3 separate regions of the Homo sapiens genome follow, and regions 1 and 2 are each reported to be linked to region 3. Evidence: microRNA targets listed by miRTarBase, many of them from high-throughput screens and not tested one by one. Region 3 holds a microRNA gene; each other region holds the end of a gene's coding sequence.
The links. Region 3 holds the annotated microRNA hsa-miR-1468-3p (AGCAAAAUAAGCAAAUGGAAAA, at 2,867-2,888, opposite strand). A microRNA usually pairs through its seed, bases 2 to 8, with sites in the 3' UTR of a target mRNA and lowers its output. Matches are read on the target gene's strand: a 7mer-m8 pairs with bases 2 to 8, a 7mer-A1 pairs with bases 2 to 7 and ends in A, and an 8mer does both.

Region 1: the mRNA of C19orf44 is a reported target of hsa-miR-1468-3p. The part of its 3' UTR that is shown has no 7-base or 8-base seed match.
Region 2: miRTarBase lists CNOT4 as a target of hsa-miR-1468-3p. The part of its 3' UTR that is shown has no 7-base or 8-base seed match.

The regions. Positions count from the first base shown.
Region 1 is chr19:16,516,743-16,521,811 of GRCh38, forward strand. C19orf44 (chromosome 19 open reading frame 44) reads left to right here. Exons shown (of 9, transcript NM_032207.4): 8 at 488-599; 9 at 3,352-4,610. The coding sequence ends at 559. CHERP (calcium homeostasis endoplasmic reticulum protein) reads right to left here. Exons shown (of 17, transcript NM_006387.6): 12 at 4,779-4,912; 13 at 4,084-4,170; 14 at 3,622-3,765; 15 at 3,407-3,523; 16 at 2,879-2,973; 17 at 1,152-2,610. The coding sequence ends at 2,417. Among named protein-coding and RNA genes, the nearest start is that of C19orf44, 23 kb to the left of the region's middle.
Region 2 is chr7:135,358,379-135,363,447 of GRCh38, forward strand. It overlaps CNOT4 (CCR4-NOT transcription complex subunit 4), which reads right to left. Exons shown (of 12, transcript NM_001190850.2): 12 at 3,417-4,808. The coding sequence ends at 4,507. Among named protein-coding and RNA genes, the nearest start is that of STRA8, 130 kb to the left of the region's middle.
Region 3 is chrX:63,783,146-63,788,218 of GRCh38, forward strand. MIR1468 (microRNA 1468) reads right to left here and starts at 2,942; the gene lies at 2,857-2,942. ARHGEF9 (Cdc42 guanine nucleotide exchange factor 9) reads right to left here and starts at 2,069. Exons shown (of 10, transcript NM_001353921.2): 1 at 1,971-2,069. The coding sequence starts at 2,000.

The DNA.
Region 1 (5,069 bases), not on the chromosome of region 3:
GCCAGGCCTCTCGTTTCCTTGTGGTTTATCTGCTGAAGAGGGCAGGTTGTGAGTCCCACGGGTCTCTACAATGTCAACTTTGCTCATTGCAGCCCTCTGGGGGCTTTGAACTCATGCCTCTGTTGGGCGTCCATCAGCCCATCCGATGCAGGCAGAAGCCATCTGACTGTGCCACCTGGCTGCAGCCCACCATAGCTCCCAGCTGCTTGCTCCAGGCGCTTCTCCCTGATCTCAGCCACTCCAAGGGCACTCACAGGCACCCCTCCCTTTCTCTGTCAGGGCTCACCCCTCGCAGGGCTGACCCTCTACCCTGTGTTCCCACAGCCCCGTGCGCCAACCTGTCACACACATCCTGTGGTTTTACACTTCTGTCACTGACAGGAGCCTGCTGGGGACAGGTGCTGGCTCCACTCCCTCCTCCAGCACCCTGTCTCAGAGTGTACTGAGGTGACGATGGTGATGGCGTGGTCTGTTCTCTGCCTGACAGTACATTAGGTGCCACAGACCTGCCCCACTGACCATGGAGGATGCCCTGGAGGAGGTGAACAAGGAGCTGTGAGCGCCAGCAGGTGGAGCTTGACGTGACGTCTTAACAAAAGGTATCCCGTCCTGTGTACTCAGTGCACACACACGCACACAAACATAGAGCTCATCAGTGTCCAAGTGTGACGTTCCGTGGTGGGGGCAGGTGGTACTGGGGTGATGGACACACACACACACAGTCAGCATCCAGGTGTGACATTCCATGGTGGGGCAGGTGGTGCTGCGGTGAGGGCCCCAGACTCCTCTGAGCCAAATCCCAGCTCAGTGACAGCTCTCCCAGCAGCATGCCCAGCTCTATGACACCACAGGCCAGTGGAAATAGAATTTCAGTGGAGCTGTCCCCACTCACAGCAGGACAGGGGCCACCAGCCTCTGCAGAGCAGCTCCACCCAGGCAGGTCCTGGCATCCCAGTGAGCCAGAGGGAGACAGGGTGGATGGGAGAAGCCCTGCTCGAGGGTAAGGACATGGGACCAGGTCAGCACGCTGGGGACGCCATGTGAGCCCCTGGACACGGCCTCTGACCCCAGGCTGCACAGCTCAAACCAGGACATGTGTCTCCTCACTCAGCCCGTGCACACTTCTGACTTACACATGTGCGGGAGAAAGGTCTTTAAAAAAAGGCTTTATTTGAAGGCAAAACAATGAAATCCACAAGAAATTACTAACAGCACGTGTTTACGTTTTATCCTGAATCATACATTTTAACAATTCACAGCTACAGGAAATCTAGAACAAAATCAAATATTCATCACGTTGGGTTGAAAAGTTGGAAGATTTTGCATCTTATTGAAAAGAATTTTTCAAAAATGTTTCTGTACAAATGAATGGAATTGCACCAGGCTGCCCATGGACACCAGGTGTGGCCGATTCCCAACGGTCACCCACCAGCTTCTGGCAGGAGCAGCTCCCCTCCTGGCCTCCCCTCCCTTCGGGGGTGTGAAATGAAATGATGGAGTGGAAGGCGCTGGCTGGGGTCGGGCTCCATGCTCTGGATGGGACTGGGCCGTCGCACACGCCAGCCGGTGCAGGGTTCTTCCAAGTGCAAAACTCAAGCAGGGGACGCGACGGGCACAGACTCCGAGGCAGCGCTCAACCTGAAGTGTCTTAGGCTGGTTTCCTGTTAGAATCTTGTTTCCCAGATAACAGCAAATGGCTACATTCCAGAAAAAAAATATCAACTTATACAACTAAAATAACTGAACTAAGGGCCAGTACGCCTTCGAAGAATTAGGTTTCAGAATCTCACTGGGCCTCCTCTCAGGTCAGTATTCTTCTTTCTAGACCTAAACCAAGGAGAGTAAAAATGAAAACCCTGCTTCACTTCGCAAGTCAAGTCAAAGTTTTGTGTTTCTGTTTTTCAATCCGCGGGCAGTCATGGCACTGGGCTTCGGCTTTGTCCCTACACAGCCGAGGGGAAGCCAGGTCAGGGCCGGTGGGTGCGGGGAGCTGGAGGAAGGAGCTGGGGTGCCGGCTCTGGCTCAGGCCAACCCTTCCTGCACATGCTCCTCCTGGAGCCTAGGAGGAGGCTTCAATCTGACTTAGGGCAGATGCACATCCATCCCTTCGTGGCTGAAGAATTTACTCGGGCGGAGGGTCTTGTGTTTTTTGCTTCGCTATAAAGGAAAACGAGCCTGGGGCCCTGGTGGCTGCAGCGCCTCCTGGTGTGGTTTGTGGGTGGCACCCGTGCCCTCCACGCCATGGAGCACGGCGTTCCCACTGGGCATGCGCTGGTCTTCCTTCTCTTCCTGTGGCTCTCCACAAGTGGAGACGGTGTAAGAACTGAGCTGTCACTGCAATCTTCCTCTGCCAGTCAGCCAGGAAGGTCCCACAGCCGGCACCGCTGGCCACCGGCGCGGCTCCCGGCATGGGCGCCTACTTACACTCGTCCCTGGCCTTCATGCGGGCGATGAAGGAGTAGCTCTTGTTCCTGCGGTAGTTCTCATAGGGGTCATCCAGAGCCACGCCCACGCCTTTATACTGGTCCCACTTATCCCGGACGTCCCCGCCCTTGATGGGGTCCTGGATCCCTTGCTCCTTCGCACCGAGGCCGCCTGAGCCGCTCCAGCCTGGAAACAGAGACGCAGTCACAACCACAACAAGGCGGAGGCAGATGGGGGTGCACGTGGGGGGCTGAATGTCCAGACAGGCAGTGTAGACATGGGAAATGGGTAGAGAGAACCCGCAGGCCGGCCCTGTCTAGAGGGTCTGGGTGGAGTCAGAACCGGCCTGACTCCATCCATCCCCACATGCACTGAGGAAGAGAAAGCGCTGGTGACTCCCGGGCCCAGCACGCGTGAGGACCCATCCCGCGCCCTCCCCATTCCCTCGCCTTACCCATCTTCACCAGCATCTGATGGCCTTTGTTCTCTTCTCCGAGCCTTGAGTCAGGGATGGGAGGCGCCGAATTAGAACCCAGACCAGCAGAGGAACTAAAATCGAGACAGGTTATTCTTTTTAAGAAGTAACTGAGACATTTATTGGAATGACAGTGATGAGGACCTCACAGCCGCAGCTTGCGTGCATGCTCACTGTCACCAGGTGACACCGTATGCAGATTTTGCGTCTCTACCCGTTTATCCTGTCTCAGCTAGATAAGGGGGCTCCAGACGCTGGCCCCCACCCCACGCTCAGCATTGAGAGCAGGACACCTCCAACCCAGATGGTGGTTAGAAAGCAGACCCCAGTTACTGCCTCAGGCTTCGCCAAGTGGCTACTGTGGTGAAGGGTGAGGGGTGCCACTGTCCCCGGGCTAATGCTGGCGGCCTCCTAACACAGTCTCCTAACCACCAATGTTTCCACATTCACAGCAAAGCACCGCAGCTTCCCAGAGTTACCAGCGCAGCACTTAAGACAGGATCTTACGGCGGGGTGGGGCTCCTGGACCGTGACCGGCGTCTTCTTCCTGGGGAGTACGACTTGGACCGGGACCGCGACTGGGACCGGGAGCGGCTTCTGGAGGAGCGCGACCTGCTCCGACTTCTGCAGGGAAGGGTGCCCAAGGGTCAGCAGCAGCCAGGCGTCGTGGGGAGGCCACAGGAAGAGGCCTCAGGCACTGCCCTGAGGCAGCCTCTGCCTACCTAGATCTGGAGCGGGAGTAGGAACGGGAGCAGGAGCGCGACCTTGACCTTGAGTACGAGCCTGAAGACTTGGAGGATCTTGAGTTGGAGCGGGAGGAAGAACGCCCTCGACTCTTGGATCTGCTCCGAGACCTCGAGGGTCCGCTGTGGGGAGAGGCCTGATGATCAGGTGCCCCAGTGGATGGGCTGCACCCAGCCCACCCTGGCCCTCAGGTTCCTAGACCACCCCAGATGCAGGGGCTCTGGCTGTGGATGTGGCGCCATAGCCACAGCAACGGTACCAAGTTCCTAAATAGTGTGGCCGAGCCTGCTGCTGTGTGAATTCAGGCCTTGTGGAAAACACCGCCCCATAGGCACAGGCTGTGTGAGGGTGGACGTGATGAGTGTATCTGGGGTCTGCTCCCACCCATCACAAGCTGTGGACCCTGGCCCCCCGGCCACTGCAGACATCTGCGCTTTTACCTGTTCCTCTTCTCCTGGCCTTTCCTCCGCCGGGCCCGCATTTTTGCTCGGAAGAACTCATAGAGGCCGTTCTGCTCCCAGCCTTCACTGTAAGACACGGCATTCCGTGTGTGACCACGTGACACCCACCCACAAGGAAGTCGTGAAAAAGTCATCAGGAGTTAATCCACAGAACCTTGGAGAGTACATGGCCCTGTGGCTGTGGGCTCCGAGCATGGGCGCAGTAGAGCTTGGTTCAGTGTTCCCACAGGGCTGTCCTCCTGCAGCCCAGTGGCTCCTCTGGTGCCCACGCCCTTGCCACCCTGCTGTTCCGCTGAGGTGGTGGGGACCCATGGTCTGTGGAACTGGGAAACAGGAACACTGACTCATGGGTGGACAGGCCTGCAGCCCAGCACAGGAAGGAGGGGTGACCACTGGGAAGGGTGGGCTGAGGGCCCTGTGGCAGCCGGCTGCTTGAGACGTGCCGCCGTGCCACACCTTCCCTAACTTCTTCTGATGTGTCTCCATTAAAACGCCCTTCATTGAGGGCCACGTGTGTGCTGTGCCTGTGACACACACTTGTCACTCAGGCGGGGGGAGGGCAGTTTCTCCTGAGGGACAGCCACATTTTCTAGCCTGGACAGAAGGTGTGGTTGCAGGGAGCCGGGAGAGGGGACAGAGGCCTCCCGCCCACCCCACTGACCTGGGCCCCTTACCTGTTCCTGGGCCTGTCGTGGGACGGGGGGCTGTAGAAGGCCTCCACTGCAGCCAGCAGCCTCTCGCTGGGCGGCATGGGGGGTGGGAGGCGGATGTCTTTAGGGTCCAAAGGCTTGTACTCGTGATCTTCCAGCTGCAGCAGAGAACCCCAGCTGTCACCATGCCTGGGCAGAGCCCTCTCAGGCCCACCCAGGGTCTGCAAGGAGTGGGGTCAGGGCAGGGCCCAGGTTCAGTGTCAAGGGTACCCTGGGCACCAGAGCTCCTCATGCTTCCCTCTTGGGGATCCCACT
Region 2 (5,069 bases), not on the chromosome of region 3:
CTTTTGGCTAAGATCAAGTGTAGAAGTCTCTAACAAGGAAGACAGAAATTAAAGCAAACAGATAAAAGCAACTTGGAGAAACAGACAACACAAGGAGAAGAAAACTATAAAGTTGAGAAAAAAACTTCCTAGAAAGAAGAGCCAAAGACACAGATAGAAAATTGGAGAAAATATTTTAAAAAGCAGAAGTCCAGAAAGTCTAGTATTTAAATAATAGAATTTTTAGAAAGGGAGAACAGAGAAAGTAAGTGCAAGAAGTTCACTAATAATTCAAGAAAATTTCCGAGAACTGAAGAAAATGAGTCATAAGATTTTAAAAGCATACTGTATGTCCACTGTGTCCACCAAAATGAATTAAAATAGACCCCCACCTGGCTGGGAGCAGTGGCTCACGCCTGTAATCCCAGCACCTTGGGAGGCCGAGGCAGGCAGATCACCTGAGGTCAGGAGTTTGAGACCAGCCTGGTCAACATGGTGAAACCCTGTTTCTACTAAAAATACAAAACTTAGCCAGGCGTGGTGGTGGGCACCTGTAATCCCAGCTACCTGAGAGGCTGAGGCAGAAGGATTACTTGAACCTGAGAGACGGAGGTTGCAGTGAGCCAAGATCGCACCACTGCCCTCCAGCCTGGGCAACAGAGTGAGAATCCGTCTCAAAAAATAAATAAATAAATAATAATAAAAAAAATAATAAATAAATAAATAAATAAAATAAAATAGACCCACACCAAGGGAGATCACTATGGAATTCCAGAACACAGAAGACAAACTTGCTACAAGCTTCCAGAGAGGGAGAAAGATTACATATAGAGGATAACAGCATCTTTGGATTGTTCAACAACAAAACTGGAAGCAAGAAGTTAATAAGCCTTTAAATTTCTGCAGAAAAAAATATCTACAACCTAGAATCCTGTATTTACCAAACTATCAACTGAGAAGTAGAATTAAATATTATTTCAGACAAGCAAATTACTAAAATATTTATCTCCCATGTACCTTTCCTTAAGAAATACTGGAGGATGTCACTCCAGCAAAATGAGATTTAAAAAAATAAATAAATAAAAGACTAGGGTGTGGGATCTAGGAATATAGGAAGATCATCTAAGAAAGGAGAGAGAACAAAGTGAAATACTAGAAATGACTGCTGTGTACCAGATCTGAGTACTGTGATCCATGACAGCTGTCAGTACCAAGATTCCCACTGCTATTATACCAACAGGCCACCTAAGTCAGTTTGGTTCAGGCTCTTTTCTGTACTTTCTGATTTTGACCAAGCCTAATGAAGTTTCTGTTCTCCCCGCCAAGCCCTGGTGAATTAATCAGCTGACACTTGTTTTAAACGCCACCTCTCACCCCAAAGGGTTAAGACACTTAATTCACTAAGTGTCTGTGATCTACTCCAGAGGACTGGAGGGAAGCCATGGTGAGCTTTGACACAGGAAACAGACAGCAAACTGATCCTGTAGACCATATTTCTGCCAGACACCCGGGACTGTGCTTACCTGACAAGACCTACCCCAACTGGCAAGCCCTGTTTTCCAGGACTCACTCATAACCTTGGCCACTGTACTTCTAAGAGGCTTTCATAAATGATCGGAGACGCTAAAGCCAAACTATGCCCCAGAAGCTATTTAGTTTATCTTCTCCTAAAAGTCTTAATCTAATAGTGACAACATCACCCTTTCCTTCTACAGCTAGGCTTGGGTTTATTACTCAGCTTTTTAAAACTAAACAATCTATTCAGGGATAGATACATAGCTGGCAAAACTCTTGAAGATTAACACAGAAATTAAAATAATGGCTATTTGAAACGATAAGGAAAGAAAATGAAGTCTAACTGGAGAGGGGCAAATAGAGGTTTTAAGATACCAGAGGTTCTATTTTTTTTTTTTTTTTTTTGAGACGGAGTCTCACTCTTGTTGCCCAAGCTGGAGTGCAATGGTGTGACCTGGACTCACTGCAACCTCTGCCTCTTGAGTTCAAGAGATTCTCTTGCCTCAGCCTCCCGAATAGCTGGGATTATAGGCACGAGCCACCATGCCCAGCTAATTTTTGTTTTGTAGTTTTAGTAGAAATGGGGTTTCACCATGTTAGCCAGGCTGGTCTCGAACTCCTGACCTACAGTGATCTGCCCGCCTCGGCCTCCCAAAGTGCTGAGCTTACAGGCATGAGCCACCATGCCTGGCCTCTATTTTTAACCTTGGTGGTAGACACACAGGTCATTATTATTTTTATTCTTCATACTTTTTATAAAGTCATGCTTTTTATAAACTCTTCTGTATGACTGATTAAACACACACACAATTACAGCACAGCCTTATAAGGTAGGAGTTCCCTCCTTTTACAAAAAAAGCAACATTTTTATTGATATGCCCATCTCAGGACTTCCCCGCATCCCCGCAAAAAGCCTTGATTACAATTCACTGCCATCTGAATATTATTTGTGCATTGGTCCATCACTTTGCAGTACAATGTGAAGGTTCAGGAGACTGAAGTGAAGTTCAAGGGCAAAGAGAGCCTGTCATTTCTAGTCCTCTCCTCTTATCCAGGGAAATTTTGTTAGTTTTACAAAACAATTTACTATCCACTTGATCACCATCTATTTCTGGTGACATTTATTTGAGAATATCATGTTTAAGTTTCTAAAAATTGTGTTGAAATTTTAACAAATTAAAGTACAGCATAAAGGTAAGGACGAAAAAAACCCACCTGAAAGCACAGAACGTACGATCTAGATCTATTTAGTTGATCCTACATCACATCCCTTAATGGACATGGCTGAAAATATGCCAGTTCCAGCTTTGGGCTTCTGAATGCAGCCCAAGGCAAGACATACAAACCACACAGATCCTGGTGCTCTGTTGGGGAACAGGTAACTTTCATCCTCTACCCTCTTTTGGTCAGTGGTGCGATCGTTGCCCCATCAACAGGTACTTCCTAAAATGGTCAGTCATAAAAGATGTGTCTGTGGATCATCTACATCAGTGTTTCCCGATCTCTTTCCCATCATGGCACTCACAAAGAGATGCCACTTGTGTGACATAGTGACTGCTGCTCCTGCCAGGTCTCCCTAAAGAGAACCAACATCTCAACATGTCAATAACCTCTCCATTACTGGCACATAAGGCTTCTCAGTTGGGAAGGCTTGGCATGCATAATACAATAGCAGAAAGAGGAATCTTCTACTGAAAGGCACTGGAAGAGGGATTCTTGAGGACAAGATGGGCTGAACGTCAAGGATGCCATTGACTGTCAATAAAATGGTTGTTTCTCCTCCACTTTCTTCTTCTAAACCATCCTCCCTCCCCACTGTTGAAGATGTAAAATCAAATGGAAACATCTGATGGCTACTTGTCACAAAACCTTTCAAACTCACATCCAACAAAACAGAAAAACAAAAACAAGGACAACCCAAGTGTCACCATCAAGTTTTCTGTTTTATTTAAGATTTTAGTTTTAATTCTGAAGAAAGAGGTACATTTCCTTGTTTTTAGTTTTAGCGTCAGGTTATAACCAGGTTTCTGTTTTCTTTTCTCCTGTCTTTTCAATACTGCACAAACGTCCAGAAACTACAGGGTTAAGTAAAAGCTGCAGGCAAGGAGGTCAGAGATTTGCTCCCGATGGTGATCAGATGGCCCCAGAGCAGTGCTATCTCAGAGTGCCCTCGTCAGGTGAATTTATGGTAAAACAAAAAAGATTCCGACAGAGGAGAAGGACTGAAGAAATGACTTACATTTCAGCTCTTATATTATTAATAGGTATTAAATCTGTGAATACTTTTTTCTTTAAAACATTTCAATTTACTTTAAATCTAAAGCCAAAAAATTTTTCTCCTTTAAAAAAATTACTTCTCACCTCCTTATGAACTCTTTAGCAATCGGCCAGTTACTACTACAGATGAATTTGTCTTTCCATCAACTTCCAATACATTCTTTTGCTTAATGACACAATCAAGTCCTTGCCATCAACTTGCCAAAAGAATTAAAAATTAATTTAAATTAAAAGCATTTTCCCTGCAATAATGATAAGCTGAATACAAGATGGATGCTAGGACCACTGCTTTCCCCCATGCATTTAGCAATCTCACGTAAATGAACCTGGTTTTCAAACTTCTGCAGTTGATAATGCATTTACTTGAGCTTTCCTATAGATTAATCGTCATTTTCTGCTAAGCAGATTATGTCATTATTATGCGCAACAGACAAACAATAATTTTCTAAGTATTGAGACTGCCCTTTGATTTTTTTTTCTCTCCTTAAAAAGGCATTTTTAGAAACATTCAACAGTGTCACTCAAATGCTGGATCAACAAAAATTTTTACAATTAATAAAGAGATGGTAATGACCCTGTGATCGCATTGCATCTGGGGTTAGGGAGAAAAAAAATTGATCAGGTACTGGATTCTTCAGAACATAAGAGATGAGAAGGGAGCTGTGGGTGGTGGGCTGAGAGGGAGAAAACAGAGTGGGACAAATCCTGCATTTTCTAATGGTTGCTCCTCTTTGCCTAATGGCGGTCCAGTGTTGAACTCTGTAGTAAATCTGTGGGGGTTTTGCTGGGGGGTCTGAAGGCTGTCTGAAAGCCTGGGGGTGGGGAGTGGAAGCTGGAAGGGTTTGAAGGAGGAGGGTAGGGATTCCAACTGGCTCTGTGCAGCGGGATCTGTGTGCTGAAGGGGGCGCTGTGGTGGGTCTGTGATGGAGCAGCGCTGGGGCCGTCCATCTCTGTGAGGGCCTGAAGGGATTTTAGCCAGTGTGGAGGATTGTCATCTTGAAGAGAGTCTAAACTGTTTCCTGAAGACGCTGGAATACCTAAGGAGAGAAAAGAAAAAAGAGGGAAAATGGTGAGTTTGTGTGGAAAGAATAAGGTCGTCAAACAAATTTAGAAAGCAAAACCAAAAGGAAAGACAGAAGAGATTACAATTTTAAACTCCTTCCAAATAAGACCTTTTAAACCAATCCTCCCCCAACAACAAAGAACTTATTGGCACACAAACCCATGCCTCCTCTTGAACTAGACTTAGTCCCCCACTGTCACAGAGGCAGAGCTGCAAAACACCATTCCCCAGAACT
Region 3 (5,073 bases):
AACCTGTTGTCAATGAGTGGCTCTGGGCCCCTATACTTCAATATATTTGGGAGAGGAAGTAAGTCTCACCCTGACCCAGTTCCCAGTTGCCAGAAATGCCAGGACTGGCATGGATTTTTTTCGGGTAATTTTTTTTTTTTTTTTTTGAGATGGAGTTTCGCTCTTGTTGCTCAGGCTGGACTGCAACGGCACAATCTCGGCTCACCGCAACCTCCCCCTCCTGGGTTCGAGTGATTCTCCTGCCTCAGCCTCAGGCATGTGCCACTACGTCCAGCTAATTTTGTCTTTTTAGTAGAGACGGGGTTTCTCCACGTTGGTCAGGCTGTTCTTGAGCTCCCGACCTCAGATGATCCACCCGCCTCGGCCTCCCAAAGTGCTGGGATTACAGGCGTGGGCGGCCGCGCCCGGCTTTCAGGTAAATTTAATGGCACTAGATCATCCTGAAGAAAGTCCTTTCCCAAGATCATGACTATGTTCCTTTCTTCCCCTCTCAGCACCATTTGAGCAAATGATTGGTGGAGCAGTGGGGAAGGACTGTGGCAGTCAGGAGACTCAAGTGCTAGACTCAGCTTTGCCTCCAAGGAGTTTGTGGTCCTGGGCAAGTCTCTCCCACTCTCTGGATCCCAGCTTTCCTGGCTGGACAGCAAGGACTCTAAGGTCTTTACCTGCTCTAATCTTTTCTGGTTCTACAAACATTTGATGCAGCTTTAATGGGACCTCAGGGAAGTAGGGAGGTCTGGGAAGAAGGGTCTTTTGAAGCCCCAGCACATAGGCATATGAACCGGATGCCCTTAAGAACCACTGAAACAGAGATCTAACAAAACTCTGAGGAAGGGAAGAGGACAGCCCCTCTGAATATAGTCCTAGCCCACACCAGATTCCCTCTTCCCCTCCACAATGAAAGCAAAAATGGAGTTAAATATCAGTTTTTGCCCAACCACTTCAGGCTACTTTCCTTCATCTGCGGGTTATGGGTGGCAGCGTAGAAGTGTGGGCTATTGCCATCAGTGCCTGCTGACCCAACCTAACTGCCTTCTAAGGCCCTTTTGCTTATGCCTCCCAGCTGAGGACAAAGTCATGGGGGCCTCCCACTCCCCAGAGGCCCTAACCAGGCTTAAGCTGCTCCTGGCTAAGTCAGAGAGGCATCAAAATGCAGCCACCACTTCCTCTCTGCAAAAGGAAGTCATTCCAAGGTCTCCAGGTGGAGAAGGGAACACCATGGCATAAAATGAACTGTTGGAGGATTATACTAAACACACACACAAGCACACACTCCTTGGGAGGGAGAGAAGAGCTCTGTTAACTGACTGTGGCCCAAGCCCATTTCCAGAATGTGGGTTTCTGCAGCTGTCTCTCCTTGACAAAGCCCCAAGTGTGGACAGGGTGACCCCAGCCCGGACAAGGAAGGGCTTTAGGGCTCCCTCAGGCAGCTTCCTGAGAGAGAGAGAGTGGCTCTCTGGCCCTCATGCTCTGGGGCTGACCAGGGAAAGGAGTTGCAGAAAATCTAGTTGGGGGCAGGGGGGAGTCATGCAGCTCTCCCATAAGGCCCCCTCCACAATTCCAGGCTTTGTGACCGTCCCCTCCCCCCACAACCCCGTGCCAGCTTGTCAGCCTCCTGCGAGCTTCACTGCTTCCAGAGAAGCCCTCTGCCATCCCCCTTCCCTCTCTGGCCTCCCAAGTGACCCCTGGGATGTTCCTGGGCACATAATCTGGCCCCCACCCCTATTCCACCTTAATCTCAGAGGGAGATAGAAAAGTGGAGGGGGATGGTAGGGGGGTTTCCTGGGCAGGCAGGCTAGCAGGGACTCCTAAAATGGCCACAGCAAGCTCACTGGTGTCTCAAGGACGGCGGCTAGGGCGGTGGGCAGAGGCCAGGGTGCTCACTGCCTTGTGGCTCGTTGGAGGAACTGGAGGTGGGGCTGGGGGACTGAGAGGCTCAAGCAAGGGAAGCCAAGGTTACATGCACTCACCATTCCCGATCCGCCCCTTATCCACTGCATGGTGCTTGCGAAGTCCGGCTTCTCTGAGGCCCCGTAGCTGGCGCGAGTTGTCGCGGGCTGACTAGAAGGGCTGGGCTGAAGCAAGCGAGAGCCCCAGCGCCCCCTCCGCCGCCCCTCCTCCACAGCCCTACAACCCAATCCCCTCCGCCCCGGACCTCGCCTTCAGTCAGTTTGTTCCATGCCAACCGGCAGGCTCTGTCTCTCCGCCCTGCTGCTCCTAGAGGTCTTGGCAGGGAGAGGTGCGAGTGTGGGGGGGTCCTAATGGGCTGCTTTTGTCCCCCACCAAGGCTTGAGAACTGTGGGGGTGGGGTGCAGGGAGAGGATGGGGGCGAATAGCCTCCGCCCGCCCAGGAGAAGGCAGCTGCTACCTCTGCCTGCCTCCCGCTGCGCTGGAGTTAGATGCTGTTTATTGTGGGGCTTCCCAATTGTGTCGAGTCAGCGGAAAGTCCTTTCCAAAGTTACCAGAGGTGTTGTGCCAATCTCCAGAATAATAAGATCCTGCCCCAGTGGAGCCAAGCCAGCACTCTCATGCCTCCCTCCCCCACCCTCCCTCTGCATACTCCCCTAGGGTCTTCTCTCTTTGTGTACTATCTGAGAGCTTTCATCTGCATTACTTTCACTTCTCAGAACAACCCTGTAGAGGCAGCCATTAGTATCTCCAAGTTATAGATAAATAAATGGAGGTTTGGAAGAGGGAAGGGGCATAAGGTCACATTAAAGAAAAAAAAAAGATAAATCCTCGACTTTACCCTCTGCGGCTTTCCAAGCCTCTTTCGGCTATCTCTCCCTTTCTATCTCACACACACCACTCCAGGCTTCTCCTTCATGCCCTTAGGAACATGAAAGGTAGCTTGTTGATGGACGAATTTTCCATTTGCTTATTTTGCTGAGAATGAGTTGAATGCACATCAGCGAAACAGGCAAACGGAGAAACCACCCACCTCTTTATGATTCCCCCAACTCTGGGGAACACAACACAGGCTGGTACCTTTGCTTAGGCTAAAAATTGACTTTGTCAGTCACACTAACATCTGTTATTATCCCTTATAATCCTCACAGTAACTCTATGAGATGGACACAACAAGGATTCTTAATTGCCCACCATTACAGACTTGAACACTGAAGCCCAGAGATTGAAAGACTTCTGCTTAAAGTAGCACAGCCAAACAAGACAAGAATCCAAGGCTCCTGACTAGAAGAGCAGGTCAGGCAAAGACAGAATTGCAAAAACAGAGGTTGCAACCAAAGTAAAAGGAGTTACAGTATGATATTAGAAAGAAGTTCCTGGAGATAATTGACATGAAGACATCACTGGCCTGTTACACGTACTTTATTTGTCCTCTTCTTTTTAGCACAACTTCTGCACTTCATCCAACCTGTTGTTTTGTCCATGCAGAGCTGGGCAAAGATAGAAGCAGTACCTTAATGAGCACCCCATCATGGGAGGTGTACAAGCAGAAGCTGAATGACCCTTTGGCAAGGGATTCCTGAATCAAATGGGAGGTTGCCCTGGATGACCTTTCAACTTCCCTCCCAAGTCTGGTAACCCAGGCATCAGTGATTCCACAATGTTCTCTCACTTTCCCATCTCTGGGCCTTCTTTCATGCTCAGTATCTTGGATGCACCTCCCCTGCCAACCAGCCCATTCAAACTGTCATGACTGTTCAAGATCTGGCACCAGGCACACCACCTTTAGAAAGCTTTCCAGGAATACCTCCAGGCCCTGATTTTGTCATCTTTCATTTGATTCCTATAGCACTACGATTTCACTGTCTCGATTAAAAATGATCTTTTTATTTCCTGGATGTTACGGGCTGAATTGTTTTCCCCCAAAATTTATATGTTGAAGTCCTTCCAGTACCTCAGAATCTGATGACTCGGAGAAGACAGTCATCTAAACAGCAAGCCAAGGAGAGAGGCCTCAGAAGACCCAACCCCACTGATACCTTGTTCTCAGACTTCTGGCCTCCAGGATTATAAGAAACTCAATTTCTGTTGTTTAAGCCACAGAGTCTGTGGTATTTTGTTATGGCACAGCCCTAGCGAACTAACACAATGGTCATATGAACATTTTACTGTCCCCTTTCACTTAAATGGCATTATGTGTTTTTGAAGCAGTGGCAATGAATTACTAATTTCTGCATCTTCTACAACAGTGACTGGCACATAGTAAATACCCAATAAAAACTTGGAATTTTTTGATGGATGCATTCATTCAACATTATCATTTAGCCCCTGTGTGCCAGGCATTGTGACAGATGCTCAGGATACAAGACAAAGTTCCTCATGGACCTTACAATCTACTTACAGAAGAGAGATAGACAATAAATAAGTAAACAAACAAAAATATTTAGAGATTGTAATATGTGCTCTGAAGGATATAAACCAATTTATGTGATGTGAGTAGCCCTGGAATTGTGGAAAGTATCTGTGCCGGTCATGGTCCAATCAGGAAAATAAAAACCACCCTAGGTCTTTTAAACTGCGAGCATTTAATGCATGACACTTACAGAGCTAACAAGCCAGACAGAGGATGAGGATGCAGCAACCTAGCATTTAACAAACACAGAAAGCTGCTACCACTCGTAGGGATGGACGGATAACAGATGAAGCCATGCAGAAGCTAAAATCATGGGTTGGACAGCCTATTGGAAGCAGGTGCCATGAATGGAAGAGTTGTTCAAGAGGAGCTGGAGCCATGGAGGAATACAGCTACCACCAGAAAACACCTCTCTGATACAGGTGGTGGGAGAAATACCCTGGGTTCTCCCTTCCTCCTAGCCACCAATCTCCTGTACATGTCTCCCATTGGACAAAAGAAGTGAGAAAGCAAGGAAATCTAACAAATGTAATTTTCAGGAGAAGAGTGGAGAATGGATCTGGATGCAAACAGGCCAGTGTTAATATAAAGCCTAGGGACTCCTGCAAAAAACAGGTGCCTAGAGACTCCTGCAAAAAACGTGTTGATCCCAGAGGTGTAAATAGATGCTGTTGAATCCAGTCATTATGTCTTGAGCACCTATTTGCCTAGAACCATATGAGTAGTTAGAGGAGACATAATGTAGTTGGTAG